Regions from separate parts of the Homo sapiens genome. Here regions 1, 2 and 4 are each linked to region 3. Evidence: fine-mapped expression QTL. A gene starts in region 3. Each other region holds a variant in brackets. All regions are shown on one strand. Distances are from middle to middle. Region 1 holds the start of LOC124900645 (a long non-coding RNA gene). Region 2 holds the start of LOC107986246 (a long non-coding RNA gene). Region 3 holds the start of TMEM175 (transmembrane protein 175). Region 4 overlaps LOC124900163 (chloride intracellular channel protein 6-like).

What was found. PIP is the estimated chance that this variant, and not a neighbour inherited with it, causes the effect.
Region 1: its variant is fine-mapped to the expression of TMEM175 in whole blood (TOPMed, PIP above 0.99).
Region 2: its variant is fine-mapped to the expression of TMEM175 in whole blood (INTERVAL, PIP 0.96).
Region 4: its variant is fine-mapped to the expression of TMEM175 in whole blood (TOPMed, PIP above 0.99).

What each region holds. Positions count from the first base shown.
Region 1 is chr4:963,934-972,039 of GRCh38, reverse strand. DGKQ (diacylglycerol kinase theta) reads left to right here. Exons shown (of 23, transcript NM_001347.4): 2 at 968-1,047; 3 at 3,130-3,229; 4 at 3,476-3,561; 5 at 3,633-3,758; 6 at 4,013-4,160; 7 at 4,238-4,312; 8 at 4,391-4,491; 9 at 4,679-4,911; 10 at 4,986-5,076; 11 at 5,238-5,292; 12 at 5,513-5,574; 13 at 5,962-6,112; 14 at 6,511-6,549; 15 at 6,749-6,864. LOC124900645 (a long non-coding RNA gene) reads right to left here and starts at 3,157. Exons shown (of 2, transcript XR_007057989.1): 1 at 3,099-3,157; 2 at 2,099-2,695. RefSeq lists enhancers at 1,804-2,322, 2,670-3,383, 3,384-4,097. The variant C/T (reference allele first, on the strand shown) is at 4,553.
Region 2 is chr4:733,056-741,139 of GRCh38, reverse strand. PCGF3 (polycomb group ring finger 3) reads right to left here. Exons shown (of 11, transcript NM_006315.7): 4 at 7,351-7,468; 5 at 6,113-6,209; 6 at 3,619-3,674. The coding sequence starts at 7,459. LOC107986246 (a long non-coding RNA gene) reads right to left here and starts at 1,713. Exons shown (of 2, transcript XR_001741543.2): 1 at 1,196-1,713; 2 at 1-433. The variant T/A (reference allele first, on the strand shown) is at 3,804.
Region 3 is chr4:928,173-936,278 of GRCh38, reverse strand. TMEM175 (transmembrane protein 175) reads right to left here and starts at 3,819. Exons shown (of 11, transcript NM_032326.4): 1 at 3,739-3,819. GAK (cyclin G associated kinase) reads left to right here and starts at 3,963. Exons shown (of 28, transcript NM_005255.4): 1 at 3,963-4,236. The coding sequence starts at 4,092. RefSeq lists an enhancer at 3,378-3,697 and a silencer at 3,858-4,177.
Region 4 is chr4:772,731-780,836 of GRCh38, reverse strand. All of the region lies in intron 1 of LOC124900163 (chloride intracellular channel protein 6-like), which reads left to right. The region is part of intron 1 of PCGF3-AS1 (PCGF3 antisense RNA 1); the gene reads left to right. Among named protein-coding and RNA genes, the nearest start is that of PCGF3-AS1, 5.1 kb to the left of the region's middle. The variant C/T (reference allele first, on the strand shown) is at 4,269.

The sequences.
Region 1 (8,106 bases), 36 kb before region 3:
GGACCTGGGTGCTGCCTGTCCCCCCTTCTCTCGGTGGACCCTGGCCTGCTTCCAGAGCTTTTCTCTTAAGCTGCCAGGAGAAGCTTCTCCCGGTCCCATCTGGAGACTGGGGTGGCTAGGGCTGCAGCAGGTGAAGGGCGGCACCAGCGGGGCCTTCTGGAAGAGCTCCCTGTCCCAGCTGGACTGCCTGGGGCTCCGTGGCACAACCTTCACCCGGGGCTGTCTTGGCAGTTGTGTCACTGGGTGCCCTGCCCACTCCCAGCCCCCGCAGCCTTTGCCCCAGCCCAGGGTTCCTGCCCTCCCTTCTGCCCCGGCCCCACCCTCCTGTCTGTTTTACTGCTGGGGTGTGGCGCTTGCTCCTCTTATGCCCTCCTGAGCACCCCGCCGGCTCAGGTGCTCCCTGGGTCCTATGCACACAGCCAGAGCTCCTTGGGAGGCTTGGGGCTGTCCACTCCCCAGCGGCTCCTGCCTCCCAGAGCCCTCACCTGCCTTGGGTGGCTCTCGGTCTCAGGCACGGTGCACAGCACGTAGCAGGGACAATTAGGGGTATGCGTAGTTTCGGGGGAGTGAGACACAGATGTCCTTGGTAAAGCCAATCTGCCGAAGGCCGAGAAGCCCCTGCCACCTGGCGAACCTGGTGAGCCCAGGGCTGCCCCTTGAGAGGCCCAACTGCAGAGGCAGGAGGAGTGCTGGGCCTACGTGCGAAGGGGAGGGACTGCTCTCTGGATGAGAGGATACACTCATTGTCCTCCAGGATGGTCAGGACCACCCAGGTTCTTGCTCCTGGGCTCCTGGGCTGCAGGCTCTCTCCAATGAGTGGGCAGGGTGGTGGGGGAACTCGAGGACCACAGGGCCCCTGGTGCAGCATGGTGGGTATGGCAGTCATTGCCCTGGGGCCTCTAACTTCCTGGGTAGGACAGCCATTGGGTAGGACAGGGGCCAACTCACACAGTGCTCATTCCCACAGTCTGCAATTTCATGTCTCATGAGAAGTGCCTGAAGCACGTGAGGATCCCGTGCACGAGTGTGGCACCCAGCCTGGTCCGGGTGAGTGTGGGGCTGGGTGTTGCACCTGCAAGAGGCTGGGGGATGTGTCAGCTCTCGTAGGGTCGAGGCACTGAAAACCTTCATGTCAGACGTTAGTGATACCTGCAGTTGAAAGGCAAAGGGCAGATACTGCTCGGGATTAAAAGGCTGAGCACCCTGCATGGATCTGCAGGGAATGATGGTGATAAAAGCCAGTCCCCGAGGTCGCAAATAGCAAGATCCTGTCCATAGAATGTGCTCAAAATGACGAAACTAAAGGGAGCACAGATGTAGAGAGGTTTCCAGGCGGAGAAGTGGGCGTGGCTGTGACATGCAGCGTGAGGGCTCCTGGGGGGGATGGAGATTTCGGCATCTGGCGTGACCTCAGTTTGCAAGATCACACACTTAGGGGAGCTGACAAAGGCTTCAGGGGGTCTGTTCAGTTTCCTCACAGCTATGTGTGAACCCACAAGCATCTCAAGGAAGCTTGAATAAAAAGCAAAGGCAGGAAGCCTGGGTGCCTGAGGGTGTCTTGGCCACCACCCTCCCTCTAAGGGCTCTGGGTGGGGCAGGGAGGTGACTGGCCCAGGTCACTGCAGGGCACAGGGGACTTCCCTTCTCTGGTGACAGTGGTGACAGCAGGGACATGTAGGAAGGGCCAGGCTTATTCCTCCCTCAGCTGTCAGCGTCGCCGTCTTCAGACTGAGGCCCCCCAAGTCCGCATTCCCTGATGCGTTCAGGCTGCAGGTGGGGCGCAGGCCGCGAGGCAGGCCCGGGTGTGCAGCAGGACGGGAAGCCAGGCCAGCAGGCACACCTGCCACTGGCGGGCATCCGGCTGCGCCGTCCCCTCTAATGTCTGACGCCCTGTTCCTAATGATGCAGTTCCCCGGGTGTGAGCAGGAGGCCTTAGGCCGGTGGTCCTGGTGGTGGCCGACACCCTGGTGATTCCACACTGGCTTGGGCGGCCCCTCGTCATGTGGACGGCCCGAGGCTGCCGCTTTTTAAAATTGATTTTAATGTCTTCTATACTTTGCTAAATTGGGAAAATATAAGTATGTATTTCAACTGTATGCATGATAGGAAATTTAGAAGATGTATTTAACGGCCGGGCGCTGTGGCTCACGCCCGTAATCCCAGCACTTTGGGAGGCCGAGGCAGGTAGATCATGAGGTCAGGAGATCGAGACCATCCTGGCTAACACAGTGAAACCCCTTCTTTACTAAACAAAATATAAAAATTAGCCGGGTGTGGTGGCGGGCGCCTGTAGTCCCAGCTACTCGGGAGGCTGAGGCAGGAGAATGGTGTGAACCCAGGAGGCGGAGCTTGCAGTGAGCCGAGATCACGCCACTGCACTCCAGCCTGGGCGACAGAGCGAGACTCCATCTCAAAAAAAAAAAAAAAGGAGATATATTTAACAAAATAAAAGTCACCCGCCATCCTGGCATGCTCACAGCTGCTATTCTGGAACACGGTCTTTCTGTGTATGCTTTTATCGGGTGTGGTTTAAGTTTGGGGACAAGGGCGAGAGTCAGGAGTGAAGACTTGGTCCTTCTCCTTCCCTTCTCGTGGAAAAGCAACAGCCCAGCTTTCTCCAACACAGAAACATTGGTCCACACTCGTTATGGCCAGATTATCTCCCAGAGGGCAGTCCCTGTGTGCTGGGATCTTCCTGGCTCGGAGGAGACAGATGCCAGGCCGTCGACAGAGCCTCGCCTGCCCCAAGGAGGGAAGGGGTGGCAGGCGGGCCTCGCTCCCCTGCGCTAGGCAGGGCTGCTGGGGGAGGCCACAGCCTCCTCCCTGCTTTTGACCAGCCAGGCTGTCCCCAGGACCCGGGGGTGTGGTTGTTCCTGGGGCCTCGCTCCCCTGCGCTAGGCAGGGCTGCTGGAGGAGGCCACAGCCTCCTCCCTGCTTTTGACCAGCCAGGCTGTCCCCAGGACCTGGGGGTGTGGTTGTTCCTGGGGCCTCCAGCTAGCACAGCTGGCTCAGCCTGGGCAGTTCTCAGCAGGAGCGTGAGCTGCAGAGTTGCGCAGGTGAAGAGCGAGGAGGGGTGGCGGGCAGCCTGTTGCCCTTACCAAGGGTGCTGAGGTGAGGCTGCCCCACCAGGTTCCTGTAGCCCACTGCTTCGGCCCCCGGGGGCTCCACAAGCGCAAGTTCTGTGCTGTCTGCCGCAAGGTCCTGGAGGCACCGGCGCTCCACTGCGAAGGTACCTGGAGCCTGCCTGGCTCCCCACCCAGTGTCCTGGTCTCTGCTGCCCAGGGTGGCCCAGCCCACCCCTGCTGTGCAGCTTGTCAGGGGTGATGGGGGAGGCCAAGGGCTGGCCGCCTGGCAGGCCACAGGACACTTAAAGGATGCAGGGTGCTAGGTGGTGGGGATGGGGCAGACCCAAGCACCGGCAGAGGCAGGGGTCCTCCGGGGGCGGCAGACACCTCTAACCCTGCCTGCCCCCCAGTGTGTGAGCTGCACCTCCACCCAGACTGTGTGCCCTTCGCCTGCAGTGACTGCCGCCAGTGCCACCAGGATGGGCACCAGGATCACGTGAGTGTACCGGCCCCAGGGAGCCCTGGGGGGTGGGGCGGGCCCAGCTGCTGACTGCCCCCGCTCTGCAGGACACCCATCACCACCACTGGCGGGAGGGGAACCTGCCCTCGGGAGCGCGCTGCGAGGTCTGCAGGAAGACGTGCGGCTCCTCTGACGTGCTGGCCGGCGTGCGCTGCGAGTGGTGCGGGGTCCAGGTGGGCGCTGGGAAGTCGAGGGGGTGGGGGTGGGGCAGGAGAGGTGCGGGGTTGGGTGGGTGCTGGGAGGTGGAGGAGTTGGCGGGGCGGGGCAGGAGAGGCGCGGGTTCCAGGTGGGTGCTCGGGGGCGGGCGGCAGGAAGGACACGGGGTCCAGGTGGGTCTGCGTCGTGTGGGGTCTTTCCCTGGACCTGGCGCACCTGGTGCCCCCGCACCCTGGCTCCAACCCCCCAGCTCAGGCCCTTCTCCCCCCAGGCGCACTCCCTCTGCTCCGCGGCGCTGGCTCCCGAGTGTGGCTTCGGGCGTCTGCGCTCCCTGGTCCTGCCTCCCGCGTGCGTGCGCCTTCTGCCCGGCGGCTTCAGCAAGACGCAGAGCTTCCGCATCGTGGAGGCCGCGGAGCCGGGTGAGGTGCGGGCCGGCCGGGGCGCCCTGGGCTGGGGGCTGCGCACTGAATGAGGGGTCCGTGTGCCCGACCCGCAGGCGAGGGGGGCGACGGCGCCGACGGGAGCGCTGCCGTGGGTCCAGGCAGAGAGACACAGGCAACTCCGGAGTCCGGTAAGTGCCCGCCTCATTCCCCCCAACTCCACTGAGGTCCCCCGGGCGCCCGGGACTCACGGAGCTTACCCGGCCCAGGGAAGCAAACGCTGAAGATCTTTGATGGCGACGACGCGGTGAGAAGAAGCCAGTTCCGCCTCGTCACGGTGTCCCGCCTGGCCGGTGCCGAGGAGGTGCTGGTAAGGGGGAGGCTGGGGGAGGTCTGAGCCCCCTCCCAGGACCGCATGTCCCCGCACCTGG[C/T]GCACCTGACCTGGCTCCCCCAACCTGGCGCCCCTCACCCACCTGGCCTCCCCCTCCATGACCTGCCCCCCACTGAACCCCGCCTGACCCCCCACAACTTGGCCCCTCTAACCTGGTGCCCTGCAGGAGGCCGCACTGCGGGCCCACCACATCCCCGAGGACCCTGGCCACCTGGAGCTGTGCCGGCTGCCCCCTTCCTCTCAGGCCTGTGACGCCTGGGCTGGGGGCAAGGCTGGGAGTGCTGTGATCTCGGAGGAGGGCAGAAGCCCCGGGTCCGGCGAGGCCACGCCAGAGGCCTGGGTCATCCGGGCTCTGCCGCGGGCCCAGGAGGTCCTGAAGATCTACCCTGGCTGGCTCAAGTGAGACTGGGCCCGAGGCTCAGGGTCTGCTGGGCGGGGTGGGGGGAGCTCCAGCTCAGACTGTGTCCCCACAGGGTGGGCGTGGCCTACGTGTCCGTGCGAGTGACCCCGAAGAGCACGGCCCGCTCTGTGGTGCTGGAGGTCCTGCCGCTGCTCGGCCGCCAGGTGCGTACCCTGTGCCTGCTCCCCATGCCGGCCAGACTCGGTGGGGGGTCGCTGTCCCCAGGAGGCCAGGCCACCATCCCAGCCCAGGCGTGGCTGTCCCCGCGGGTGTCCTGAGGTGGTGGGGGCCTGCCCAGACCCGATGCCAAGCTCTACCCCAACAGGCCGAGAGTCCCGAGAGCTTCCAGCTGGTGGAGGTGGCGATGGGCTGCAGGCACGGTGAGTAGACAGCCCGTGCTGGGCGTGGCGGTCCCTGCACCTTTTGGGTTTGGACCTGCTGCCCAGGCTTTCCTGCAGGGTGGTGCCGGACATCAAGGCCGGGCTCTGCCCTCCTGACCAGCTCCACCCTGCATCCCCACGGGCCCTGGGGGCTCCGGGCAGCTGCTTCCAAGGTGGGCGAGGAGCCGGGTGCTGACGGCCTGTGCCCTCACCTCTGCAGTCCAGCGGACGATGCTGATGGACGAACAGCCCCTGCTGGACCGGCTACAGGACATCCGGCAGGTGAGTGGGTGTGGACGCCGGCCCCCAGGGAACCAGCAGCCCTCAGCCACAGCCTCTGCCCCACAGGGTGGGTGTGCCCCAGACGCCGAGTTCTCCTTGGCTAGGCAGCGGCTGTCCTGGCTGACAGGGCAGCGCCCTCGTCATGAGCTACTTGGTCCCTGCAGGGAGGCCTCGAGCTGCAGATCTCCCCGAGGTCCTCGAGGGGAACGGACAGGGGTTGTCCACAGCAAGGAAGCCTCTGTGGCCCCTTTCCTCGTTTTCCTGTTGACTTAATTCCTGGGAGTGTTCCTGATGCCCTGTTTTGCTGTTTTGCGGGTGAGGAGACAGAGGGCCTGGTGCGGTGGTGCCGTTCTCCCCGGCCCAGCATCCCCGCCCCTCTCCCTGCAGATGTCTGTGCGGCAGGTGAGCCAGACGCGGTTCTACGTGGCAGAGAGCAGGGATGTAGCCCCGCACGTCTCCCTGTTTGTTGGCGGCCTGCCTCCCGGCCTGTCTCCCGAGGAGTACAGCAGCCTGCTGCATGAGGCCGGGGCTACCAAAGGTGTGACCACTGTGGCTGGCCGTGGGCTGCTGGCACGGGGCAGGGTCGAGCGGCAGGCAGTGGGGCTGCAGTGCTGAGCCGGCTCCTGCCTCTCCTTGAGCCACCAAGGCCTGAGCTCCGGGTCCAGCCCACGTCTCTTCCTCCAAGAGGCTCTGGAGCCTCTCGCCCTCTGTGGCCGTTCCCTGCGGTGCTCAGCCTCTGCCTCTCCCTCTCCCTCTGGGGGGTCCTGTACCTCCAGGGAGCTGGGAGTCCTGCTCCTGGAGTGGGGCAGGGGTACTTCCTGGGGAGGCTGCCTTTGGGGTGAGATGTCACCCCTGGACAGGCGGAGGGGCTGTCCCTGGCCCCAGTGCTGTGTGTCCTTCGCCTCCCACCGCCCTGACCACAGCCTGCCTTTGCAGCCACCGTGGTGTCCGTGAGTCACATCTACTCCTCCCAAGGTGAGCTGCCCTGAGGGACGTGGTCACATGAGGCCCAGGGGTGTTCCTGGGGTGAAGTGGGACAGCCCTGGCCCTCACGTAGCACCTGACCTTTCCCTTGGGCAGCCCTGGGCTGGGGAAACGTCCTGGTTTGGTTCCTGCCCTGGCACCGTGGGGGCCATGGGACAGGCTCCCCCTGAGTCCTGGGCTCCTGCCGCAGGCGCGGTAGTGTTGGACGTTGCCTGCTTTGCGGAGGCCGAGCGGCTGTACATGCTGCTGAAGGACATGGCTGTGCGGGGCCGGCTGCTCACTGCCCTGGTGCTCCCCGACCTGCTGGTGAGTGTGCGGTCAAGCCGGCTCTTCACACACCCCAGGGGGTGGCCAGAGGGAGGTCGGGGTCTGCAGGTGCACAGGCCCCACAGCCAGACTCGCTGTTTTCATCTGGCATCACTTCCTTGAATTCACTGGGGGCTTGTAGGTGCCACCTTGTTTGTGCCTCACAACAGCAGGAAGGACTCTGTTGCCCGTTTTACAGCAAGGGGCCTGAGGTCAGAGGGTCAGCGCTCATCCGAGGCTGCCCAGTAGGTGATACCAGCTCCGTGGGGCACCGTGGGGTCAGGCCCAGCTTCCACGCTGCACCTGAGGCCTCCACCCAGTAGGGAGGCCCACAGGACGCAGCTCCTGGATGTGCCGGGCCCCGCTGCGGCTGCCTCGCCAAGGGCCAGAGCGTGTTTGTGACCAGCTGTCAGGATCCCAGGCATGGCCCTCCCGGTACAGCCTCAGCCTCACTCCCCCTGCCCGGGAGGCCTTAGGGCCTCTGCTCTCTGCCTGGAGCTCCCCAGGCCAGTCAGTGCAGCTCCCAAACTTTGAACGCTGCCCTTCAGACCCACAGTGCCCAGAAGAGGGGGCACCTGGCAACAGGGCAGGGCTGGGGGAAAGGGGGATCTGGAACATGGAGACAGGGCAGGGCCGGGGGGAACGGGGGTCTGGTCCGTGGAGACAGGGCAGGGCCGGGGGGAACGGGGTTCTGGCCCATGGAGGGGCTGGAGCCTGGGACTCCACGCTGCACACCGTGCCTTCACATTGGCCTCTCGTCCTCAGCCCATCTAGCCCCCAAAGGGTCCCATGAGGACCCCCCAGGTGTCCATGGCTGTTCTACCCCTGAACCTTGACCCTTGATCGTGACCCCAGTCCAGGCGAAGCAGAACTCGAGCAGAATGAGTTGTCTGTGGCTGGGACGGGAGATGCCTGTGGCTCCCTGCTATGCCTCCCTCCTGTGCCCCTACACCCGGCCTTGCCTGGCTCAGGACAGGGTGGCCATCCCCACTGTCCCGAGGATGCAGCCCCCACCCCAGCTCCACTCGCTCTGTGGGCAGAGCCAGGTTTGGGGCCGACACGCGCTTTCTCTCTCCCGTCAGCTGCCTGCCCTGGGGTGAGTGGTAAGTGGTGACCGCAGGCGGCTCTGCCTGCCAAGTGGGTCACGAAGCCCCGAGTGTGTCCTTGCCCCCAGCCACGGCCGGCCCCTGTGCCGCTGCCCACCCTGTGTCTGCACCCAGCCTGTGTGTCTCCTGTTGCCCA
Region 2 (8,084 bases), 200 kb after region 3:
GATATTGCTGGTGTTGAGTCAGTGACTCCATCGTCGGCTGTTTGCTCTCAGCATAGCTACAGTATGACGGATGAGAAAGTCGGTGCTTTGCCATCAACAATGACAGTTCAACAACAAAATAATCCAGAGTTCACTGCGGCTTCGAAGTGCAGCCCTGAAAGTCCCCTTTTCTCCTTTCCTCGTTCTGACGTCGTCATGAAAACGTCCCAATGCAGTGACGATGAGTTCCAGCCACGGTGCAGAGGGCTGCCCAAAGCCACCGGCAGGCAGGCAGCACACTCCTGGCACACACTCAGCTGCACCACGGACGGGCTTACGGGTGAAGGCGACCACAGCTGAGCCAGTGGGGCTGGTTCCAACCAGGCTACGCACCATGAAATTTCAATTCTTAAATTATCACATCATAAAATACGCTGCTTTTGATTTTTTCCAACTATTTAAAAATGTAAAGAAACATTCTTAGCTCATGGGATCCTCCTGCCTCGGCCTCCCACAGTGCTAGGGTTACAGGCATGAGACACTGTGTCCGGCCCCCACGTTTCTAAAGCAAGAGGTGACAGGCATGTTCAGGATCCATGGAAAGAGGACTGGTGAGTGCGTGAGCCCCACAGCCCTCACCAGGAACGGACAGGAGCCTGGCACACCAAAGACCATGACACGCCCACCGAGTGAAAGAGCCCAGAGTGGGCTGAGACTGAGAATGGACACTTTGATAAATGTTTTAAACATGTTGCCTCTACGAAGACAGGTTTCTAAAATAATTTATAAAAACAAAAAGAAACAACAAACCACTAAAAACCTAACCCCACCTCTGATCTAGCAGGGAACTCTCTTCCAGCAAGCCCCCACCATGTGGGGGTGCGGGGACAGCGTTGAGGGCCTGCCCGGAGTCCAGGTGGGAGGGGCAGGACCGTGTTGGCGTCTCCTCCAAAACAGACACCTGGACCCTCAAGGGCTGACACCTCGCCTCACCACTGCATCCTCGCAGCTAACGCGCGTTTCAGGAAGAGGCCTCTGGTCGGAGAAATGAGGTTTGCAATTGTCTGCACCACAGATAAAACTAAACAAATTGCAAGTAGCCTCCATCAAGAAAATAGGTGCACTGCTAATAGTTTTAAAGTTAGAATCCTCCTGCTAAAGAGCCACAAATGACTGAAAGCTTGAGAAACAACAAGAAAAAGAATATTGACTCAACGGAAAATATGGTGGCCAGAGACAGGAGCTGGTCAGGGAGGCGGCTCGGGGCCACCGTGCCCTGGGGGTGTCAATCTGGAGCACTCCGGAACCTCTTGCCTCTCGACTTCTTCAACGTAGAGTGGAGTTGGCAGCGTCCACACCGGACAAGAGCGTGCTGAGGTGGACGAGAACATACAACCTGCTCCAGGCTGGACGCACACTCCAACTAACACGTGGAGACGAGCGATGGAACGGAGGTGGCATGCAGATCTCAGTGCCACCCGGCTCAGCACATGGACGACACCTGCCCTGATGGATGCCCAGAAGCGGGCTTCCCAAAAACACGGGTGGAACGCACCCAGGTCCACTGCCGCAGGACAACCCAGGACAATGGGAAGGCAGAGGCAGGAACCAGAAGGAGGCCCGTGAGTCAGTGGTATTCTCTGGATCCTGATTGGAATAAACAAAAACAGGCTGGGTGTGGGGGCTCACACCTGTAATCCCAGCACTTTGGGAGGCCAAGGCAGGAGGACTGCTTGAGCCCAGGAGTTCAAGACCAGCCTGGGCAACACAGCAAAACCCTATCCCTACAAAAAATTAGCCAGGATGGAGGTGCTTGCCTGTAGTTCCAGCTACCTGGCAGGCTGAGGTGGGAGAATCACTGGAGCCCGGGAGGTTGAGGCTACAGTGAGCTGTGATAGCACCACTGAACTCCAGCCTGGGCAGCAGAGACCAGGTCTCAAAATAAATAAAGAAATAAACAACAACCAAAAAGCACCGCATTTATGAGACAACTAGAAATGTCAGCACTGAGTGGCTATTTGGTATTAAGGAATCTCTACTATTTTCCTAAACATTATCAAGGTATTGTGGTTATGAGCTTTAAGAAGAACCCTTATCTTTTGGGGATACGTACTGCAGCCTTTACAGATCAAAGGCCACGGGGTGAGGCTGAGGGAGCAGCAGGTGCAGCAAGGACGGCCACGCCTAGAAACTGCTGGCGGGGGGTGGTGGTCACAAAACTCGAGGTTCCTGCCCCGATCCCGCCCACTGCTAAGCGTTTGAAACGCTCCAGTGCACACTTTATTTATTTATTTATTTTTTTGAGACGGAGTCTTGCTCTGTCGCCCAGCCTGGAGTGCAGTGGCGCGATCTCAGCTCACTGCAACCTCTGCCTCCCGGGTTCAAGCGATTCTCCTGCCTCAGCCTGCTGAGTAGCTGGGATTACAGGCACCTGACACCACGCCCGACTAATTTTTTTTTTTTTTTTGTATTTTTGGTAGAGACAGGGTTTCACTATGTTGGTCTGGCTGGTCTCAAACTCTTGACCTGATGATCCACCCGCCTCGGCCTCCCAAAGTGCTGGGATTACAGGCGTGAGCCACTGCACCCGGCCACAAACGTTTCTTAAAGTGTCAGCACTGGCGGGGGTCACAAAACTTGGGGTCCCGCCCCGATCCCGCCCACTGCTACGCGTCTGAAACACTCGGTGCAAACGTTTCTTAAGGTGTCAGCATTTAACTCGAATGTATCCTTTGCCTTTTCTCAGGACTAAAAAACTTTCAGATATTAAAAGACTAATTGTTTCTATCTACGTTTACTCAGGAAATCTAAATTCTTCCTGCATGAATGAACTCTGTGAGTAGGGAAGAAGCCTCTAACAGTATGATTCTCTGGGTCACGCATTAAAGGCGAGATACGGTTTCTACGGATCTGGCATATTCAGCTGTGTTTTGAATTCCAACCCTCTTCTGAGATACAGTGAGAACCAGCCCAAGTGAATTCTCAGCTTCTCTATCTGCCTTTGAAAGGTCTGATGAGCAGAATACCAGGACAGCCCACCTGGCGCTGACCTGGCCCCTCCTTGGCCTCCTTGCCGGTCGCCAGCGGAGGGCCACCACCGTGAGAGTGTCGGGAGCTGGGGAGCTTTCAGCTGAGCGATCCCCAAGCAACCGATTTCCACTTTCAGGGTATTTGTACTACTTGGTATTTCTTTTAATTCTAAATGAAATTTGACTTTATGGTGAAGTTTTTCTAGAAACACCAGCTACCCGCTATGCCAACGTGCTGCTCCTCTGTTGTGGGGAAGCTGGCGCTGTGGGATGAGGGGAGGCAGGCCTGGGACAGGAGGTGGGGCCCAGGAAGAAGGCAGGGTCCTGGGAGGGGCAGGAGCTGCGTTGAGCCCTGGGGGTCCCATGTGCTAAACATGCGATCCATACTTGCTGAATGAATACACATAAGGGGTAAAAAGATGTCTACGCATCTTAGACGAAAGAAGAGACCAGCCAAGGAGATGAAGTTGGGCTGAGAGCAGGGATGAGAAGACGGTGATTCGGCCAAAAGGAAAGGGGCCTCCCATCCGAGAACCAAACTTCCAGGAGAGCAGGGGCTGCAGAGGCCAGGCTGGGACCTCAGGGATCAGCAAGACAGTCAGACACTCACCTTCTTGGAGGCCTGGTACCAATTTGTAAACAATATCTTGCATGGTTCTGTCATGACTGGCAAAAGAACAGAAAGGTGGAGTTAGCTGGAAATGTTAATTCTATAATTCTTGTACACTTTCCATTTAACAATATCAAAGTTCAGAATCACCAGTCTGGAGCTTTGTTGGAATTTTACTTCTAGTT[T/A]ACACATGAAAAAATGTGTCACCAAAAGCCATGTATGAGCTGAATTAACGCGTCATTTAACTTGGGCTCTGGCTGCTTCAAACATTTCAAATAATGACAGAGAAGGCTCTTCTGGGAACCCGTGCTTCTGTCTGCCGGACACCCCAGATTCCCCACGTCCCGTGCGCTCAGGGGACACCGTCCCTGCAGACACCCCAGGTTCCCCGCGTCCCGTGCGCTCAGGGGACACCGTCCCTGCAGACACCCCAGGTTCCCCGCGTCCCGTGCGCTCAGGGGACACCGTCCCTGCAGACACCCCAGGTTCCCCGCGTCCCGTGCGCTCAGGGGACACCGTCCCTGCAGACACCCCAGGTTCCCCGCGTCCCGTGCGCTCAGGGGACACCGTCCCTGCAGACACCCCAGGTTCCCCGCGTCCCGTGCGCTCAGGGGACACCGTCCCTGCAGACACCCCAGGTTCCCCGCGTCCCGTGCGCTCAGGGGACACCGCCCCTGCAGACACCCCAGGTTCCCCGCGACACTGTCCCTGCAGACACCCCAGGTTTCCCGCGTCCCGTGCGCTCAGGGGACACCGTCCCTGCGGACACCCCGGGTTCCCCGCGTCCCGTGCGCTCAGGGGACACCGTCCCTGCGGACACCCCGGGTTCCCTGCATCCTGTGCGCTCAGGAGACACCGTCCCTGTGGACACCACGGGTTCCCTGCATCCTGTGTGCTCAGGGGACACCGTCCCTGCGGACACCCCAGGTTCCCTGCATCCTGTGCGCTCAGGGGACACCGTCCCTGCGGACACCCCAGGTTCCCTGCATCCTATGCGCTCAGGGGACACCGTCCCTGCGGACACCCCGGGTTCCCTGCATCCTATGCGCTCAGGGGACACTGTCCCTGCCCCTCCCACCAAGTGCTTCCTGGGGTCTCCTGGTCTTTGTGGGATTTCCAATGAACAGAGGCTTTTCTAGAATGTTTCCAAATAATGTAAAGAAAAGTCTGTGAGGGCCGGGTGTGGTGGCTCACACCTGTAATCCTAGCATTTGGGGAGACTGAGGCGGGCAGATGACCTGAGATCAGGAGTTTGAAACCAGCCTGGCCAACATGGTGAAACCCTATCTCTACTAAAAATACAAAAATTAGCTGGGCGTGGTGACATGCGCCTGTAATTCCAGCTACTCGGGAGGCTGAGGCAGGAGAATCACTTGAACCCGGGAGGTGGAGGTTGCGGTGAGCTGAGATGGCGCCATTGCACTCCAGCCTGGCGACAGAGCAAGACTCCATCTCAAGAAAAATAAATAAAATTAAGAAAAATAATAATAATAAAAGGGAAAAACAAACACATCTGCCTTTCCTCCTTCAAAATGTGTCTTCAGAATTATCTCTACTACCCTCATGGTACGGGGAGCATTTCCCTTCCTTTGGAGCAACCCCCCAAATCTGAACGACCTCCCAAATCTGTGTGAGAACCACACGCTCCACCTGGCTGGCCCCTTGGCCTCCTGCTGACGTCCAGGCAAGAGTTGCCTTCTCCAGAAATGGTGGCTGGCCCAGGGGTGAGTCCAGGCTCGCTGTGACCCTGGGCAGAAGAGCACAGCGCAGGGAGAAAGACCTTGGCCATGTGTCAGGGGCAGCAGGGCCAGGGCCCCAGGACCATCTGCTCCATGGCAGAAAGGTGAAAGGGGTATCCAAGGGCCGGCTCACATCAAATTTAACTTCAGCAAATTCTGCGTAAAACTCATGAGATTCAACTTGGTCTTGAGGGCTCTCCAACAATTTAACTTGACTAAGTATTTTTTCTTTCTCTTTGAGACAGAGTCTCGCTCTGTCGCCAGGCTGGAGTGCAACGGCGCAATCTCCGCTTACTGCAACCTCGGCCTCCTGGGTTCAAGTGATTCTCCTGCCTCAGCCTCCTGAGTAGATGGGATTATAGGCATGCACCACCATACCCAGCTAATTTTGTACTTTTAGTAGAGATGGGGTTTCTCCACGTTGGTCAGGCTGGTCTCAAACTCCTGACCTCAGGTGATCTGCCTGTGTCGGCCTCCCAAAGTGCTGGGATTATAGGCATGAGCCCCTGCGCCCGGCCTACCTAAGTATTGATGGAAATGTATGTGCAGGCACAGCCTGGGCAGGCCTGGCAGGATGGCCTGGTGAGCGCTGGACCCAGGTTCTTCGTGTGCAGCTCCTGGGGTGCCCTTGGTCAGGAGAGGCTGCTGCCAAGGCAGGATGGGAGTACAGCGCTAATGGCCTGGGAAGGCCCACACACAGAGACGCCCAGGGGCACTCACCCCACGTACTGTGGCCTGGGAAGGCCCACACTCACCCGATGTACTGCAGGGGGTGGCTCTGGTGGATCACAATCCTGCAGGTGGGGCAGGTGTTGTTCTCCTCCAGGTACTTCACCAGGCAGCTCCTGCAGACTGTCATCAAAGCACAGGTGTGTTAGGAGAGCGTCTAGAGCCAGGGCGCCCACCCCATCGGCGTGCTCCACTGAACACGGGCGTCTCTGAGCTCGTTTCTGTGCAGATGCTCACTGCTGTCCTCCTTGTGGCTCTCAGCTTCTGAAAGGAAACATCTTGCCGTTCTGGTCTCAGGAGCAATGAGAAGGTTTTAATTGCCCCGTCAATGGGCTTCCTCAAAGAGGCAGGGTTAGGAATTAAGTGGGAAAAAAACTTAGAATGGGGAGATGATGCTCAAAGGTGACAGAGCTGTGGGTCATCAGAACATGGGCTAAAACAGATAATTTTACAATACTTTGTCCTAAAAGATGACAGTATCTTCTACGTACAACTAGATAAAATCAAATGAAAATAACCTAACATAAAATATGCTAACCAATATCTAAAAATACGATTAACGTTAAAGTCAAAATTCTATCAAATTGGCAAATATTTTATTTCCTAAAGTGAGAAATACACAAGCATCACTTGTATTATAAGCGTACACTTCATTTTAAAGATCCTGTTTAAACAAAATGCTCCCCAGCCATCAAGAGACGCACACAGCGGTCGTCCACACCAGCAGGGCCGCCAGCCATGGGGCCTCAGGTTAGCATAAGAGCCGAGCCTCAGCCTGATGGATGGCACCTGCCCGTCAGCGGTAGCCACACTTAGAAAAACACTCAGGTCCAGCCCCAGGTGTGAGTCCTCTAACACCAAAGCACAGACTCATCAGGTGTGAGGACGCACATCAGGTGTGAAGAACACACTGGAAGGTTCCCCTTTGAAGGATCTAAGGAACTCCTCTGGAGATTTGGAAACTGCCAGCAGTGAGCACTGTCACAGCGGCTACTGGCCTTGCTGCTCCGTGGGAGGAATGTGGGGTCTCTCCTGTGTTTCGCTCTCCTAAGCGAGGCCTCATCTGCTCTGACACCACCCACAGGACCTTTAGCGTGAAATGACTTTTCTGACTTATCTTCAAGATCGTCTCTGCCCCTGGTCCTGGTTCCTGCTTTTGTCGGGCTTGAGCTAAAAGCGTGTGGTAACACAAAAGCCAAGGTTCTGAAGAGCACAGAGCTGGGAAGGGCGCGCCCTCCCTGGGTGGCGCGGGCAGGGCACGTACAGGTGTGCAGACACTCGGTCACCGTGGTGGCGTCGATGAGGTACCCGCTGCACAGGCGGCAGGTGATGTGGGCGTTGATGTCCCACAGCTTGATCTTCCTGGTCAACATCTTTGGCTTCTACAAGAGAAAACGCGATTAATTAACACCTGAAACTCTTCCATGCCTTTCATCCTTGGCTGAGCTCTGACAGCCGCCCCCAGGGAGGACAGTGCAGGCCCTGAGGCCTGGGTGGCAGGAGCCTCTTGGGCTCACGGGGTCCCAGGCTCCCATGTGCAGGGCACGGTCAGCAATCCAGTGTCTGCGTGCACTGGGACAAGCCCACCTTTTCAAAAGCCCCCGGCTCCCCCGCACTGGCTTCTCTCTGTGCCCAACACCCCCTCCTCTCCTCCTGCAGTGAGGACTGAGGAGGGTCCATAAAGCTGCAGAGAGGCAGGATCCCCGAGCTGTCTGTCTTCTGTGAAAGCGGAAGGAGCAGGAGGAGCCCGCGAAGGCAGAGCTGCCGGGTGGGATGAGGATGGGCAGGCTCTGGGCACCTGGACCCTCTGCGGCTCACAGCGCGACCCTTGGGCCCAGTTTAGAGTCTGGGCTGTATGCTCACACCCCTTCCTCCCCATTCACTTGTGGGGCCGGCGCGGCTTCCACGGTGTCTCCTGAGGCTGTGTCTCCCAGAGCCTGAGGCAGCACGGGGCAGGGGCGGAGGCAGCACGGGGCAGGGGCGGAGGCAGCACGCGGC
Region 3 (8,106 bases):
CCACCTCCCGGGTTCAAGCAATTCTCTTGCCTCAGGCTCCCAAGTAGCCGGAACTACAGGCGTGCACAGGCATGCACTGCTACACCCAGCTAATTTTTGTATTTTTAGTAGAGATGGGGTTTCACCATGTTGGCCAGGGTGGTCTTAAACTTCCGACCTCAAGTGATCTGCCCACCTCAGCCTGCCAAAGTGAGCTACCGTGCCCAGCCAACTTTTCTAGTTTCATAAGGTGATTGCTGAGGTCACTGATTTGAGACTTAACATTTAATACTGTTTTAGCTGCATCCCACCAGTTTTAAATGCTGCATTTTCATTTTCATTCTGTTCAAAATACTTTCTAATTTCCTTTTTGATTTCTTCTTTGACCCATGAGTTATTTAAAAGTGAGTTGAAAAAATATACAAAAAACAAAAGTGAGTTATTCAGTTTCCAAATATTGAAAGGATTTTCCAATCTGTTACTGATTTCTACTTTAATATTCAATATCATTCTGGTCAGATAACATACTTGTTTAATAGAACAGAATATGATCAGGCTTAATGTTTTAATGCACTTGAAAAATTGTGTATTCTGCTGTTATTGTGGGGAGTGTTCCATAAACATTCATTAGGTCAAGTTGGCTGACAGTCATGTTCAAGTCGCCTATATCCTCAGTGATTTTCTGGGTATCTATCCTATCGTTTATTGAGAAAGAATATTCTCCAACTACAATTGTGATTTTTCTCTCTCCTTGCAGCTATTAGTTTATGCTTTGTGTATTTTAGAGCTTTGTTATTAGGTGCATAAATGTTTAGGATTATCAAGTCTTTTCGATGAATTCACCCCTTCTTCATTACAAAATGATCCTCTTAATCTCTTGCAATACTCTTTGCTATGAAATTTAGGAAATCAGTTATAGGGATTAAGACTATAACTTCAGTTTTGGATATATACATGTTTATACATGTAGCAGTATCTAAGAACAAACATCTGAGAGTTCAGATGAGATATGGAGATAGATATTTGGGTTAAGATGGTGTTACTATAGCATCTACTTCAATGCCAATAAATAAAGGTGCTCCAGAAATATTCGTAAGATAAGTAGTCTGACTCTGGTTTCCAAAGTGATTACAAGGTTTAGAAATGTCCAGCTGATCCCAGGTCATGCCAGTATAAGTTCATGGCCTCCAGATGAGTGCTTAAACGCTCTCATGCTTTCCAGTGAGTTATTTGCTAGGTTTCTCATAATAGCTATTTTAGATCTTTTTGACACTGCTTAAATCTTGGGTTTCCTACTTCCCCTCTCACTTTCAGTTGATGTTTTTCTTTCCTCATTCACAATGAAAACAGAAGTCATTAGAGAATTCCTTCACCTTCATTCCAATAAATACATAAGGTCACCTACAACTGCAGCCCATTTTTCTTCCTGAGTGTTTTTCCTATGTCCAAAGCAAATATCTCTACCTATGCTCTTGATGTCATTCCCCTCCTATGTTCTAAGAGATAGAAGATATCTCATTAAGATAGAATTATCTTATTATTCCTCTTTTTTCTGTACCAGCAAACCTTCTCTCCCTTCCATCCGCTTTAGGCTGCTCAAGAATCTCTCATCTTAAAACATCTCAATACTACATCACCCTTGTAGCTCCCTGGAGCTAAGGGTGCCGAATTTGTTGGCCTGAAGTTGTTCATATTCTCTTCCACAGACAAACATTTTGAGTTATCTCCACTTGCCATCTCTACCTCATCATCTCTTCATCCCTCTACGGTAATATGTAGCTTCCACCTCATTACTCCAATGAAGCTATTCTTGGTGAGGTCACCAATGATCCCTTGTGAATAAATCCAACACATATCTTCCATTTCTTTTTCTACTTGACTTTTAAGTGGCATTCGACACTCTTAGCTGCACTCTCTGCCCCGAACATCCTCGTTCCTTGGCTCTGTTACGACACTCTCTTGGTTTTCTTCCTCCTTCACTGACTGCTCTTTCTCCACAAACTGTCTATTCTCTGAAGATTCTAACCTCTTTATGTCTAGTACACCATCTCTGTTGGTCCTCTCTTCAGCTCCTAGAGCCAACTGCCACCTCTATGCTGAGGATGCCCAGATATCTGTCTCTAGCAGGGATTCTTTCCTGAGCTCTCTATCCTTCTATTCCACAGTCGACCAGACAAACGCACTGGCTGGAAAAGCCATGACTTGCGTTGAATTGCAGTTGTATCACTTGTTGGCCCTGGCCGAATAATGGCATTGTTGAGCATATTTTCTCATCCCAAAATAAAGGGGGTTAATTATACTGTGCTTTCTTCACAAAGATGTTTTCACTACAATGAACTATTACAGAAAAGGGTGTTGTAAGCAATAAATCAGTGCCTAAACTAAGCTATTGCTACTGTTATTTTTGTTATATATATTTTTAAAGATGTCATTTGGCTTCATGCAATACTTCATTCCATAACATAGATAAGTGTTCCAACGAGCTGAGGCTATTATCTTTTAATGATAAAGATAACAGATGTTAGCTTCTGGGACGGCTAAGAGGCTGATGTGAGCTTTAGAATCCATTTTTGAGTTGGAGAACAAATAACTCTGTTGAAGGGGTTGCAACCTTAAATGACTATAGGAACCAGGCAGGTAACATACATGAGCCCATCTGGTCAGGCAAATGACTGTGTCTTACCTCAAGGGACCACTCTAGGTAATTGGTAACACACATCATTTTGGGTCCAATATTGACAGGTTTGATTTTTCCACAGAAGCTGGAAAACTAGGTTTTTAACATTTAGGCCTTTCAATTATTATTATTATTATTATTTATTTTTTGAGGCGGAGTCTCAGGCTAGGGTACAGTGGCGCCCGCCTCCCGGGTTCAAGCGATTCTCCTGCCTCAGCCTCCCGAGTAGCTGGGATTACAGGCACCCGCCACCACGCTCGGCTAATTTTTGTATTTTTAGTAGAGACGGGGTTTCACCATGTTGACCAGGCTGGTCTGGAACTCCTGACCTCAGGTGATCCGCCTGCCTCGGCCTCCCAAAGCACTGGGATTACAGGTGTAAGCCACCGCGCCTGGCATCAGTCTTTAAATGATAGCAACTAATTCACCTCCTGCTACCCACTCCCAACCCCCAAATACTGTGTGGGCCAAAAACTAAAAATGCATTGTCTGTGAGCCATTTCCTTATTATCCTATAAGGAAAGTCACCATTTCATCTCCAAATAGTTGGGCATTACGAACCCTTCCAAGTGGTTCATGAGGATTTGCTTTTGCCTTGGAAAATGTCAGGGTGAGAACGAACCTTGAGGGTCACAGGGCAGTCTCTGCAGTGTTGTGGTTGCCCAGGACGAAGGTTTTTCTAGCCCACGGCTCCCACTACTGGTCACTGCCCCAGGCCAGACCCTGGCCCTCTCCTCGGAAGACAGAGCAATGCAGCAGCGTTTCCCCTGCAAACTGCCTGCCTGGCTGCTGGGAGGGGGCTGCCAACCTTACTCACTAAGCGTCACAGGAAACTCCGACCTCCATGAGACGAAAACCAAGTATTTACTGAAAGCTTAACGCACGCTAACTCCTTGCTCCTTAGCCAACTGAGAGAAAAATTCGCGAACCCATTCGCAAACGCGGCGCTAACAGCAAACGGGAGGCTGACTCCACCCAGAGGATGGCGAAGCGCTTAAACCGGAGACACCTGAGAAGGAGCCTCCCACAAAACAGACCATGTGGGGAACGGTACCGGGAGCTGGACTGGGGCGCTGAACTACCTGGGCGGGAATCGCCTCGGCGACTGTTCCGCGCGCCTCCGCTTGAGTCAGCCCGGCCGGGAGCTTGACAGCCGGAAGTTCATCGCAAGCCCGGCGACGCCGCGCACGCGCTGTCTCCGTCAGACCTCCGCGCCTGCGCGCGCAGCCAGGAAGTGAGGCCGCGGCGGAGGGGACGGGGCTAGGCCGGGTCGCCGCCTGACGCGACGCGTCCTCACGGGCGCCTACGTCACGGCGTCGAGGCGGAAGATGGTGCACCTCCGGGCCGGCGGTTGCTGAGCTGACCCGGACGGCGAGGGAGCGGGAGCCCGAGCCCGACCACTCCGGCTGCCGCGGGGTGCGGCGCAGCCACCGCCATGTCGCTGCTGCAGTCGGCGCTCGACTTCTTGGCGGGTCCAGGCTCCCTGGGCGGTGCTTCCGGCCGCGACCAGAGTGACTTCGTGGGGCAGACGGTGGAACTGGGCGAGCTGCGGCTGCGGGTGCGGCGGGTCCTGGCCGAAGGTGAGGCCCCGGGTCGGCAGCGCGGGTGCGGCCGCGGAGTGTTGTCTCCGGGACGCTGGGGGCAGCGTCAGCCCGGAGTGGAAGGGCGTGGGTTAGGGCTGGGGAGGGTCCCAGCGGGATCGTGGGTCAGGGTCGGCCAGGGGAGGGTCTCTGCCGAGGGCGTGGGTCAGGGCCAGGCGAAGGTCATAGCGCGGGCGTAGGTGAGTGCCTGCTGGCGGTGATTGCGGAGGGCGAGGCTGGGACCGGGTCGGGGTACTTTCTTGTCATAAGAGTAGGGTCAAGTCGGAGCAAGGCCTGGGGCTTGGGGAACCCCCTCAGGGTGGGTGGGGGAAGATGTTACGGTGAGGTGGGGGATGGTGGCAGGCAGGGAGCTTGGGTGGGGACCCACAGCGGAGACTGAGGGACGGTGCCTAGAAGGCCGACAGCTGGAGTCAGGAGGTGAGCGGTGCAGGAGGTGGGTTTAAGCCTTGGCCTTTTGCCGGACATCTGGGGTTATTGAGCAGGCAGGGACAGGACTGGACTTTGGAGGTTAGGGCTGGTTCTTCTACAGTCCAGGGAACTTGAGAGTTGGTGGGTGCACACGTGTTGCAGGTAGTTGCGGTTGTAGCCTGGGGGGTGGGGGGGTTGGCCGAGGGTAGACTGGGCTGTGTCTCGTGATCCCCCTTCGTCTTTCAACACCTCAGTGTTTCTCTTCCCGGTGAACATCTACTCGTGTGATTCCGTGTGTAGTACAGGAAGCAGAGCCAGTGGTTGTGACCTATATAGAACTTGCAGAGTGGACAGGTCACTCGGCTTAAGTCCTCTTGAGTCAGTCTTGAGTCAGTTTTGTCTCTGCATGCTATTTCTAGCTCCCTGGATGTCCTCTCCGTTCACACGGAATCGATCACCAGTGCCAGTGGGTCCCATTCTCTCTTGTGGATTTTCCTTACATTTTTTGTCCAGTGGTGCCTGGAGGTGTGTCATATTTCACTGGCTGTGAAGTTTATGGGCTAAACACAGTTGACTTGGGTGCGGAAGCGTAACTCTATTCTGCTGTATTGGCACAGGGAGAGGGAGTGAAGCGACACAAAAGCCCTCACCCTCACCAGCTCCCTGGTACCTCTCAGGGCTGGAGGGTTAGCCTGTCCAGGTGCCTGCTCTGTGACCAGACAGGAGACTATCCCAGAATTCTGATTATCACAAAAGGCCTGCGGAGACATTTTGACTGTAGCATTATCACACACTTTGTCTCCATTGTGGTCAAAACCAAACAGATTTTGGGTATGATTTGGTCAGAAAGTCTAAGCTCTTCTTTCAGAAGTGGGGGCTGAAGTGTGATATTCTTTCACATCAGTTGGAAGATTTCTCTCAGATCAAATCATTTATTCTGAAAATACTAGGTGGTTATCTTCATTCTTTAAGAAGTTTATTGTGGACAGGACTTGCTTTCTGGAACTTCAGACTTGTGCTCAAGGGGTGGAGAGACAGAGGCAGCACAGGGACAGATCCTTAGGGGTGGTACAGACAGTGTGAGCTTTGGGAAGGGGCCAAGCAGAAGATGGCACGGATCTTGGTGGGAGGGATGGAGAATGCACCCTCACTGGGGCCCGGAGAGGAAGATTCGTATAAAGAAAGAAGCTTGTGGGTCACTTAGCACCCAGGAAGAAGAACAAGGAAATGTGGGCAGCTGCTGAGGTTGTGCAAAAGAACTTGTTTCCCTTTGCTATCTAGGCAAGTCAGGAGATAAAAATAACCAATGCAATTAGGAGCTGTAGATTTCCTCCTTGTAAACTTAATAGGTGGCCTGCAGCCTCCTAAGTACTTTGAAGCCTCTTTGAACTGAAACAGAGTGTGAAAGCTGAATTAAGTATTTTATATAAACATACTTAATTAAGTTTTGTCTGAACAGCAACCTTAGAACATAGGCTATGGGAGTTTAGGCTGTCTTGTGTAAACATGGTGATGGCTGGTAATCTGAACCCTTGAGTACAGATGTTTACACTTCCAGAATTTTTCAGGTTTCAGAATGGTCATTGCAGCATATAACCTGTATATCGTGGGATACTCCCAGAAGACTTGGGAAAGTATTCTGTAATTGAATACATTAATATTTCTGTAATTAAATGAATAAATATTCTCACTGTGGGATAATTAAAGTCTGTAATTAACCCCATATCAGTTCATGTCAGGTTTTATCCCAAATGAGGTTATTATGATAGACCAGGATTTGCTGTCAAGTGAGTTAGGAAAAAATGGTTTTCATAGCTTTTAGGAATTTGGACTTGTGGTGTGAATGGGTTTTTAGGTAGAACTGTGGAACCAGATAGCTTTCTAATTTCTTCAAATTTGTTCTGTCATCTTCCTTTTTTTTTTTTTAATTTAAGAGACGAGGTCTTGCTGTTACTCAGGATGGATTTGAACTGGGCTCTGGATCTTCCTGCCTCGGCCTCCCGAGTAGCTGGGCTTACAGGCATGTGCTGCTGCACCTAGCTAGTCTTCACTTTTTTAAAAGGCAGATTATCAGGAGCACCAACCATGTCAGAGATGCCCAGGGCAGGTGTATGCTGTGTGTTCTTTGTTTTGGGTTCTGCGTGCCGTTGCTTCTGAAGTGGAGCCTGTGGTGCCCTGACTGCAGGGAAATCCACCTTCCCTGTGTGGCTGACTTGAACTCGGGGTTACTGCTAGTGAGATAAATTGAGGCAGAAAAGAAAACGATGCCGCACAGCCGTCGTATGGTTTAAGCGTAACCCGCCTCGTGCGTTTGGTTGGGTGTTGTATGTAATTTGAGCCAGCCCGCAGCCCTTGTGTGCCATGCGCAGTGTTAGCTGAGTGGCTGGGCCCGCTCAGGAGCCTTGGGGGTCAAGCTCTGGCCTAAGGAATGGGGAGGGCACAGCCTACTCCCACCCCCAGGGCCACTTGTGTGTGGTCCTGACTCTCCACCCTTCTTCCTCCTTGACATGGCTTTTGGAGGCTTCCTCCCTTCACTTACTTAGAATGTTCTGGGCCGGGCGCAGTGGCTCACGCCTGTGATCCCAGCACTTTGGGAGGCCGAGGCGGGTGGATTACCTGAGATCGGGAGTTCGAGATCAGCCTGGGCAACACGGGGAAACCCGTCTCTACTAAAAATACAAAATTAGCCGGGTGTGGTGACACATGCCTGTAGTCCCAGCTACTCAGGAGGCTGAGGCAGGAGAATCGCTTGAACCTGGGAGGTGGAGGATGCGGTGAGCCAAGATCACGCCATTGCACTCCAGCCTGGGCAACAAGAGTAAATCTCCGTCTCACCAAAAAAAAAAGAAAAGAAAAAAGAATGTTCTGGACTGGGTGAGGGCACTGTGAATATTTGGTACTGACTGACAGTTGCAGAATCATGTGGTACAAGCAAGACTCTTGGTTGCAAGTTTCAGAAACCCTCCCAGGTGGGCTCAGTGGCAGGAAGGCCCCATGTCTCCAAGGTGGGCTCAGTGGCAGGGGAGGCCGCATGCTGGCCCCATGTGTCCTCCGCAGGGTACACTTGAGATCATTTTCTTTTATTGAAAAGAGTCTGGCTCTGTCGCCCATGTTGAGTGCAGTGGAGCGATCACGACTCACTGCAGCCTTGAACTCCTGGGCCTACGTGATCCCCCTGGCCTAGGCCTCCCAGAGTGCTGGGACGACAGGCATGAGATAATGTGCCCAGCCTTAGACTGATCTTAAAAGTAGACCGGGCCGGGCACGACGGCTCACGCCTGTAATCCCAGCACTTTGGGAGGCCGAGGTGGGCAGATCACCCGAAGTCAGGAGTTCGAAACCAGCCTGACCAACATGGCAAAACCCCATCTCTACTGAAAATACAAAAACTAGCTGGGCATGGTGGCGCGTGCCTGTAATCCCAGCTGCTCAGGAGGCTGA
Region 4 (8,106 bases), 160 kb after region 3:
AACAAAGCTAGTTGGTGAGGCACTGCCTTGCAGTTGTAGGAGAGGAATAATGGCCCCCGTGGGTGCTTGGTTGGAACGATTAAAGGAGAATAACAGTTTAGCACGATTATTTCACACAGTTGTTCAAAGAGATGGCTTTGAATTCCAGCTTACATGGCGTCTTCAACAAAAAGTAATTGTTTAGAGAAGTGACAAGATGAAGGAGGACTCTGAGTCCTAGTCTCCCTCCTCGAGTCCCTGTGTGAGCAGAGGTAAACAATGAAAACTCACCAACCAGGAGAAATTCACCTAGGACTGGCGCAGAAGGTATACACCATGAGCCTGGAAATGATTTAAAAAACAACACAGGCTGGGCGCGGTGGCTCACACCTATAATCCCAGCACTTTGGGAGGCAGAGGCGGGCGGATCACTTGAGGTTTGCGAGTTGGAAACCAGTCTGACCAACGTGGAGAAACCCCGTCTTTACTAAAAATACAAAATTAGCCAGGTGTGGTGGCGCATGTCTGTAATCCCAGCTACTGGGGAAGCTGAGGCAGGAGAATCCCTTGAACCTGAGAGATGGAGGTTGATGTGAGCTGAGATCACACAATTGCAGTCCAGCCTGGGCAGCAAGAGTGAAACTCCATCTCAAAAAAACAAAAAAAACAACCCACAACTGTGGGCCAAAGGGACACAGCGACAAGGGGTCCCAATGGGCGAGGCTGGAATAACTTGAATAGCAGAATAAAGTAGCATTGGATTATAATGCACAGGGCTGAAGAAATATCGATGAGTCTTTGCTGATGTAATAAGTGACTGAATGAGCTGGGCAGAGTGGGACCTGTAGTTCAGCTACTCAGAGGCTGAGGTGGGAGCATCAGTTGAGCCCAGGAGTCAAGGCCTAGTAATATCCCATTTCCAAAATAAAAGACTGAATTAATAAATAGATGGGAGAGAGGAGACAATTGACCATGCAGGAGGAGTCCAAATATTTGTTCTTTGAGGCAGGATCTTCCTCTGTCATTCAGAAGGCTGGAGTGCAATGGTGCGCTGTTGCCTTGCTGCAGCCTGGACCTCCTGGGCTCAGGCAGTTGTCCCACCTCAGCCTCCCAAGTAGCTGGGACCAGAGGCATGCACATCCAGCCGAGTCCAAATAGTGTATGCAGATATGCCCTCACAGAGGTGACCTGAACTTTCTGAGTTGTGAGTGAGCTTCACCTGGGGACCTCCTTTTAGGTAGCAGGGAAAAAGAGGAGGGTGAGCCACACCCAGGCACCTCCTTCCAGAGAGCATGTGCCTCAGCCTCCAGAGTAGCTGGGATTGCAGACATGTGCCACCAGCCCGACTAATTTTTGTATTTTTAGTCGATACGGGGGGGTCTCACTATGTTGCCCAGGCTGGTCTTGAACTCCTGGGTTCAGGTGATCTTCCCACTTCAGCCTCCCAAAGTGCTGGGATTACAGGTGAGATAAAACTTCCTTATTCACAGACTACATGATTGTCTATATAGAGAACACTCATCTAAAGCAACAGCAATGATTGCCACAAAGACCCTCGTAGAGCCAGTAAGTGAGTTTGGAATGTTCACCAGTAACACATACAAATTAATCTTAGGGCTGCGTGCAGTGGCTCATGCCTGTAATCCCAGCACTTTGGGAGGCTGAGGCCGAGGCTGGTGGATGGCCTAAGGTCAGGAGTTTGAGACCAGCTGACCAACATGGTGAAACCCTGTGTCTACTAAAAATAGGAAAACTATCCAGGCATGGTGGCGGGCACTGTAATCCCAGCTACTCAGGAGGCTGAGGCAGGAGAATCGCTTGAATCCGGGAAGCAGAGGCTGCAGTGAGCCGAGATCGCACCATTGCACTCCAGCCTGAGCAACAAGAGTGGAACTCTGTCTCAAAAAAAATAAAAGACCCGGTGTGGTGGCTCATGCCTGTAATCCCAACGCTCTTTGGGAGGCTGAGGCAGGCGTATCACCAGGTCAGGAGTTGGAGATCAGCCTGACCAACATGGTGAAACCCTGTCTCTACTAAAAATACAAAAATTAGCCGGGTGTGGTGGCACACACCTGTAATCGCAGCTACTCAGGAGGCTGAGACAGGAGAATTGCTTGAACCTGGGAGGCAGAGGTTGCAGTGAGCTGAGATCATGCCACATTTGAACCCGTGAGGCAGACGTTGCAGTGAGCCGAGATCATGTCACTGCACTCCAGCCTGGGCAACAGAGCCAGACTGTCTCAAAAAAAAAAAAAAAATCTTACTTCTATAGACAATAAAACATTGGAAACTGAAGTTAAAAACACAGTAGCTCCTGAGAGAGAGAGAGAGGTATAAATCTAACAAGACAAAACAGGATCTGTATGCTAAAAAGACTATGTATGTGGAGAGACGGCACACAGCACGCTCATAGACTGGAAGACTGAACATAAGATGCCAGTCTCAGAAGGATCTGTGAAATTAACAAAATTCCAAAACATTGCAGTAGGACTCTTTTTAGATTTAGAAAAGATGATTTTAAAATGTATACAGAATGGTGAAGGAGCTAGCTAAAACAGTAAAAAGGATAGATAAAACAATGTTTTAAAAAGAACAAAAAAGTTAGATGAATCACATTACACAGTTTTAACAGACTTTAAAGCCACAAAAATCAAGACTGTCGTATTGGCAAAGAACAGACAGATGGGTCAGTGATCAGAGAGTCTAGAAACAGACCCACATAAATAGGGCCATTTGATCTTTGACAGCAGTGCAAACAAAAGCAACCCTGTGGAGAAAGGATTGTCCATTCAACAGAGCAGTGGGGCAGTTGGTCATCCATATGGTAGAAATGGAACCTTGGCCTAAACCTCACATTGTACACAATTAACTCCAATCATATGTAAACGTAAAACAAAACTATAAAATGTTTGGAAGAAAACAGAAAAATACCTTTGTACCTGATGACATTTGGTAGAGTTCTTAGACATGATCCCAAAGGCATAATCCACAGAAGAATCCATAAAAGAAAAATTTGTAAATTGGACTTTATCAAAATTAAAAACTTACTTTTTTGAGATAGGGTCATGCTGTGTTGTCCAGGCTGGAGTGTGGTGGTAAGTCATAGTTCACTGCAGCCTCGACCTCCCGGGCTCAAGCCATCTTCCTTCCTCAGCCTCCTGAGTAGCTGGGACTAGAGGTGCAAGCCACTATTCCTGGTTTTAAAAATTTTTTCCAGAGTCTGAGTCTTGCTGTATTGCCCAGGCTGGTCTCAAATTCCTAGCCTTAAGTGATCCTTCCACCTTCGGCCCCAAAGTAGTTGAGATTACAGGCATGAGCCACCGTGCCTGACCTAAAAACGTTTGAACTACCAAAGACAGTGTGAAAAGAATGAAAAGATGAGGAGAAAATATTCACAAATCACCTGTCAACTAAGGACCTGTATTTGGAATACACAGAGAACTCTTAAAACTCAACAGTAAGAAAACAGTCCAACTAAAAAGTGGAAAAGACCTGATCAGACATGCACCAGCAATGACACAGCATTGACTGTTGGGCACAGGAGAAGAGGCTTGACACCACCAGCCACCAGGAAATGCAGATTCAGCCACCACGCAGGACACGAGGCACCTGCACCACAGCCGCAGTGCAAGAGAATGCTGGTGGTGCCCCAAGCTGCCAGGGTGTGGACCTGCTGGAAATGGAAGACGGCATGGTGGTTTCCTATAAAGTTCAATGTACACAGCCACATGACCCAGCAATCCCACTGTTGGGTATTTAGAGAATGAAAAACTTAAGTCCACATAAAAACTGTACGTAAATGTTTACTGATGCCTTATTCATAATCATCAAAAGCTGAAATTCAAATGCCTTTCATTGGGTGAACTGGTAAACTGTGGTATATCTATGCAGTGAAATACTCCTCTGCAGTGACAATGGGGAGAGACTGACACATTGGGCACCATGGGGGTGGGAAGAGGTGAAGGAAGGTTGGGGGAAGGCGCCGTGGTCAGGTGTGGCACTAAGGAGATTTGGGGGTGGAGCCATTCTGTGTGTGGACTGTGGTGGTGGTCGCGTGACTGTACATGTGTTAAAGCTTCAAACAAAAAAGTTAAAAATTTTAGTTTAAAATATTAAAACATTTTTAAAAATGGACACGTATTCCTGAATTTTTTTTTTTTTGAGATGGAGTTTTGCTCTTCTTGTCCAGGCTAGAGTGCAGTGGCGCCATCTCGGCTCACCACAACCTCTGCCTCCCGGGTTCAAGCAATTCTCCTGCCTCCTGAGTAGCTGGGATTACAGGCATGTGC[C/T]ACCATGCCTGGCTAATTTTCTATTTTTTTTAATAGAGACGGGGTTTCTCCATGTTGGTCAAGCTGGTCTCGAACTCCTGACCTCAGGTAATCCACCTGCCTCAGCCTCCCAAAGTGTTGGGATTACAGGTGTGAGCCACTGCCCCCGGCATTCCTGATTTTTAATAAGCTGTAACAGAAGATAATTTCTCTATTTGGTAAATGGTATTTGTCAAAACCCTGCAGCAATCATGCTTAAGTCAAGATATTTAAAGTATTCCCATTAAAGTCAGACAAGCACAGTTCTCCTTGCTATCACTGTGAGTGTTTTCCAGACATCCCAGCAGGGTGAGAGAACTGAAAAAGAGGGAAGGAGATGAATATTGGAGACAGGGTTTAGTAGTTTGTTGATGATACAATCATCTGCATGTAAATCCAAGAAAATCCCCTGAGGAACCCTGAGGACCAGCCGAGGAGTTCAGTCCGTGCCAGATCCAGTGGGTTTCTCTACTCCACAATAACCCATCGGAGCATGAGCCACAACCCTCCACCTCCATATGAAAGAATCACAAAAGCTGGAAGAGAAGTGTGTAAGGACCGCCTGAGGAAGATGCTAAAAGAGGGTGAGTTGGCAGACATGCCACATCGTGGGTGAAGGATGTCAGCTGCCCCACAAAGTAAACTGTACATTCATTGCAATCCTAGTTAAATTCTGATGAGATTAAATGACACAGGATAAGCTGCTTCTGGAGCTGATCTAACAGAAGAAAAGCCAACATTAAAAAAAAGGCTGGGTGAGGTGGCTCACGCCTGTAATCCCAACACTTTGGGAGGCTGAAGCAGGCGGATCATTTGTGTTGAGGAATGTCATTTGTGGTCAGCCTGGCCAGCATGGTGAAACCCATCTCTACTAAAAATACAAAAATTAGGTGGGTGTGGTGGTGGGTGCCTGTAATCCCAGCTACTTGGGAAGCTGAGACAGGAGAATTGCTTAGGCCTGGGAGGTGGAGGTTGGTGGTGAGCTGAGATTGCTCCACTGCATTCCAGCCTGGGTGACAGAATGGTACTCTCTCTTTCACACACACACAGACACACACAAAATAAAGAAAAAGGGCTGGCGTGGAGGCTCCTGCCATAATCCCAGCACTTTGGGAAACCGAGGTGGGCAGATTGCTTGAGTTCAGTTCGAGACGAGCCTGGGCAACATGGCAAAACCCCATCTCTACAAAAATAAAAAATTAGCTGGGTGTGGTGGTGCCTGTAGTCCCAGCTACTCTGGAGGGTGAGGTGGGAGTATGGCTTGAGGCCAGGAGCCCGAGGTTACAGTGAGCCATGATTGCACCACTGCACTCTGGCCTGGGTGACAGAGTGAGGCCCTGTCTCCAAAAAAAGAAAAAAAACCCCACACCATAAAGGGGGTCCTACTGTGTCCGGAATTGGTGGGTTCTTGGTCTCACTGACTTCAAGAATGAAGCCGAGGGCCCTCGTAGTGAGTGTTACAGCTCTTAAAGGTGGCGTGTCTGGAGTTTGTTCCTTCTGATGTTCGGATGTGTTTGGAGTTTCTTCCTTCTGGTGGGTCTGTGGTCTCGCTGGCTCAGGAGTGAAGCTGCAGACCTTCGTGGTGAGTGTTACGGCTCTTAAGGTGGTGCGTCTGGAGTTGTTCATTCTTCCCACTGGGTTCGTGGTCTCGATGGCTCAGGAGTGAAGCTGTGGACTTTCGCGGTGAGTGTTACGGCTCTTAAGGTGCTGTGTCTGGAGTTGTTCATTCTTCCCACTGGGTTCATGGTCTCGATGGCTCAGGAGTGAAGCTGCAGACCTTCGTGGTGAGTGTTACGGCTCTTAAGGTGGCGCGTCTGGAGTTGTTCATTCTTCCCACTGGGTCCGTGGTCTCGATGGCTCAGGAGTGAAGCTGCAGACCTTCGTGGTGAGTCTTAACAGCTCTTAAGGTTTCGCGTCTGGAGTTATTCATTCTTCCCACTGCGTCTGTGGTCTCGATGGCTCAGGAGTGAAGCTGCAGACCTTCACGATGAGTGTTACAGCTTTTAAGGCGGCGCGTCTGGAGTTGTTCATTCTTCCCACTGGGTTCGTGGTCTCGATGGCTTCAGGAGTGAAGCTGCAGACCTTTGCGGTGTTACAGCTCATAAAGGCAGTGTGGACCCAAAGAGTGAGCAGCAGCAAGATTTATTGCAAAGAGCAAAAGAACAAAGCTTCCACAGTGTGGAAGGGGACAGGACCAGGTTGCCACTGCTGGCTCGGGCAGCCTGCTTTTATTCTCTTATCTGGCCCCACCCACATCCTGCTGATTGGTCCATTTTACAGAGAGCTGATTGGTCCATTTTACAGAGAGCTGATTGGTCCGTTTTTGACAGGGTGCTGATTGGTGCTTTTACAATTCCTGAGCTAGACACAAAAGATCTCTACGTCCCCACCAGGGTAGCTAGATACAGAGTGTCGATTGGTGCATTCACAAACCCTGAGCTAGACACAGCGTGCTGATTGGTGTGTTTACAAACCTTGAGCTAGATACAGAGTGCCGATTGGTGTATTTACAATCCCTTAGCTAGACATAAAGCTTCTCCCAAGTCCCCACCAGACTCAGGAGCCCAGCTGGCTTCACCCAGTGGATCCTGCGCTGGGGCTGCAGGTGGAGCTGCCTGCCAGTCTTGTGCTGTGCGCCTGCACTCCTCAGCCCTTGGGTGGTCGATGGGACTGGGTGCCGTGGAGCACGGGGCAGTGCTCGTCGGGGAGGCTGGGGCCACATAGGAGCCCATGGAAGGGGTGGGAGGCTCAGGCGTGGTGGGCTGCAGGTCCCGAGCCCTGCCCTGCCCTGCAGGGAGGCAGCTAAGGCCCAGCGAGAAATTGAGCACAGCAGCTGCTGGCCCAGGTGCTAAGCCCCTCACTGCCCGGGGCCAGCAGAGCCGGTCGGCTGGCCGCTCTGAGTGCAGGGCCTGCCGAGCCCACGCCCACCCGGAACTCTTGCTGGCCTGCAAGCCTGCCCACATCCCTGGTTCCCACCCGCGTCTGTCTCTCCATCCACACCTCCCTGCAAGCTGAGGGAGCCGGCTCTGGCCTTGGCCAGCCCAGAAAGGGGCTCCCACAGTGCAGCGGCGGGCTGAAGGGCTCCTCAAGGGCAGCCAGAGTGGGTGCCAAGGCCAAGGAGGTGCCGAGAGCAAGCGAGGGCTGAGAGGGCTGCCAGCACACTGTCACCTCTCACTACCAGACCCGAGCAGAGCTGTGGACAACACAGTATGGGAATTAAGCAGGTGAGATGACCAGAGTCCTCACTGGCACTAGAAGATGGCAGCCCAGGAGAAAGCTACCAGCCAGAGCGAGGCCTGCCAGAGATAGCCACATCTCCTCTCAGAGAATGGGGGTGATGAGGCCCTGCAGGCCAATCTGCCCTGTGCTGTGGGGCAGAGGAAGCTGTGGGACTGGACAACTCCAACATTCACAGTTGTGGCACCAGCTGCAGGTGAGAAATGTGAGGAGGGACCCTGCCCCCTCAACCTCTGAGGGGCCCTGGCAGACTGGGGGCTGTCGCCACCTGAGGGTTCCCAGCCTTCCTACAAGGCAGTGTGCATGGTGATGACTGAAGTCTCGGGGTAATCTCCCAGCAAGAGGTCAGGTCCTGGTTGTGCGTCCCAGGGTGTCAGTGAAATTGGCTGCTCCCCTGACCCAGGGCACCTTCATGCGTCTTCACAGCAGGACTACTGTGACCAAGGCCAGACCTTTCATCTTTCAAAAGACTTTGACTAAAAATGCTTTAAAAAAGCAACCTTCGGCTGGACGCGCTGGCTCACGCCTGTAATCCCAGCACTTTGGGAGGCCGAGGCGGGCGGATCACCAGAGGTTGGGAGTT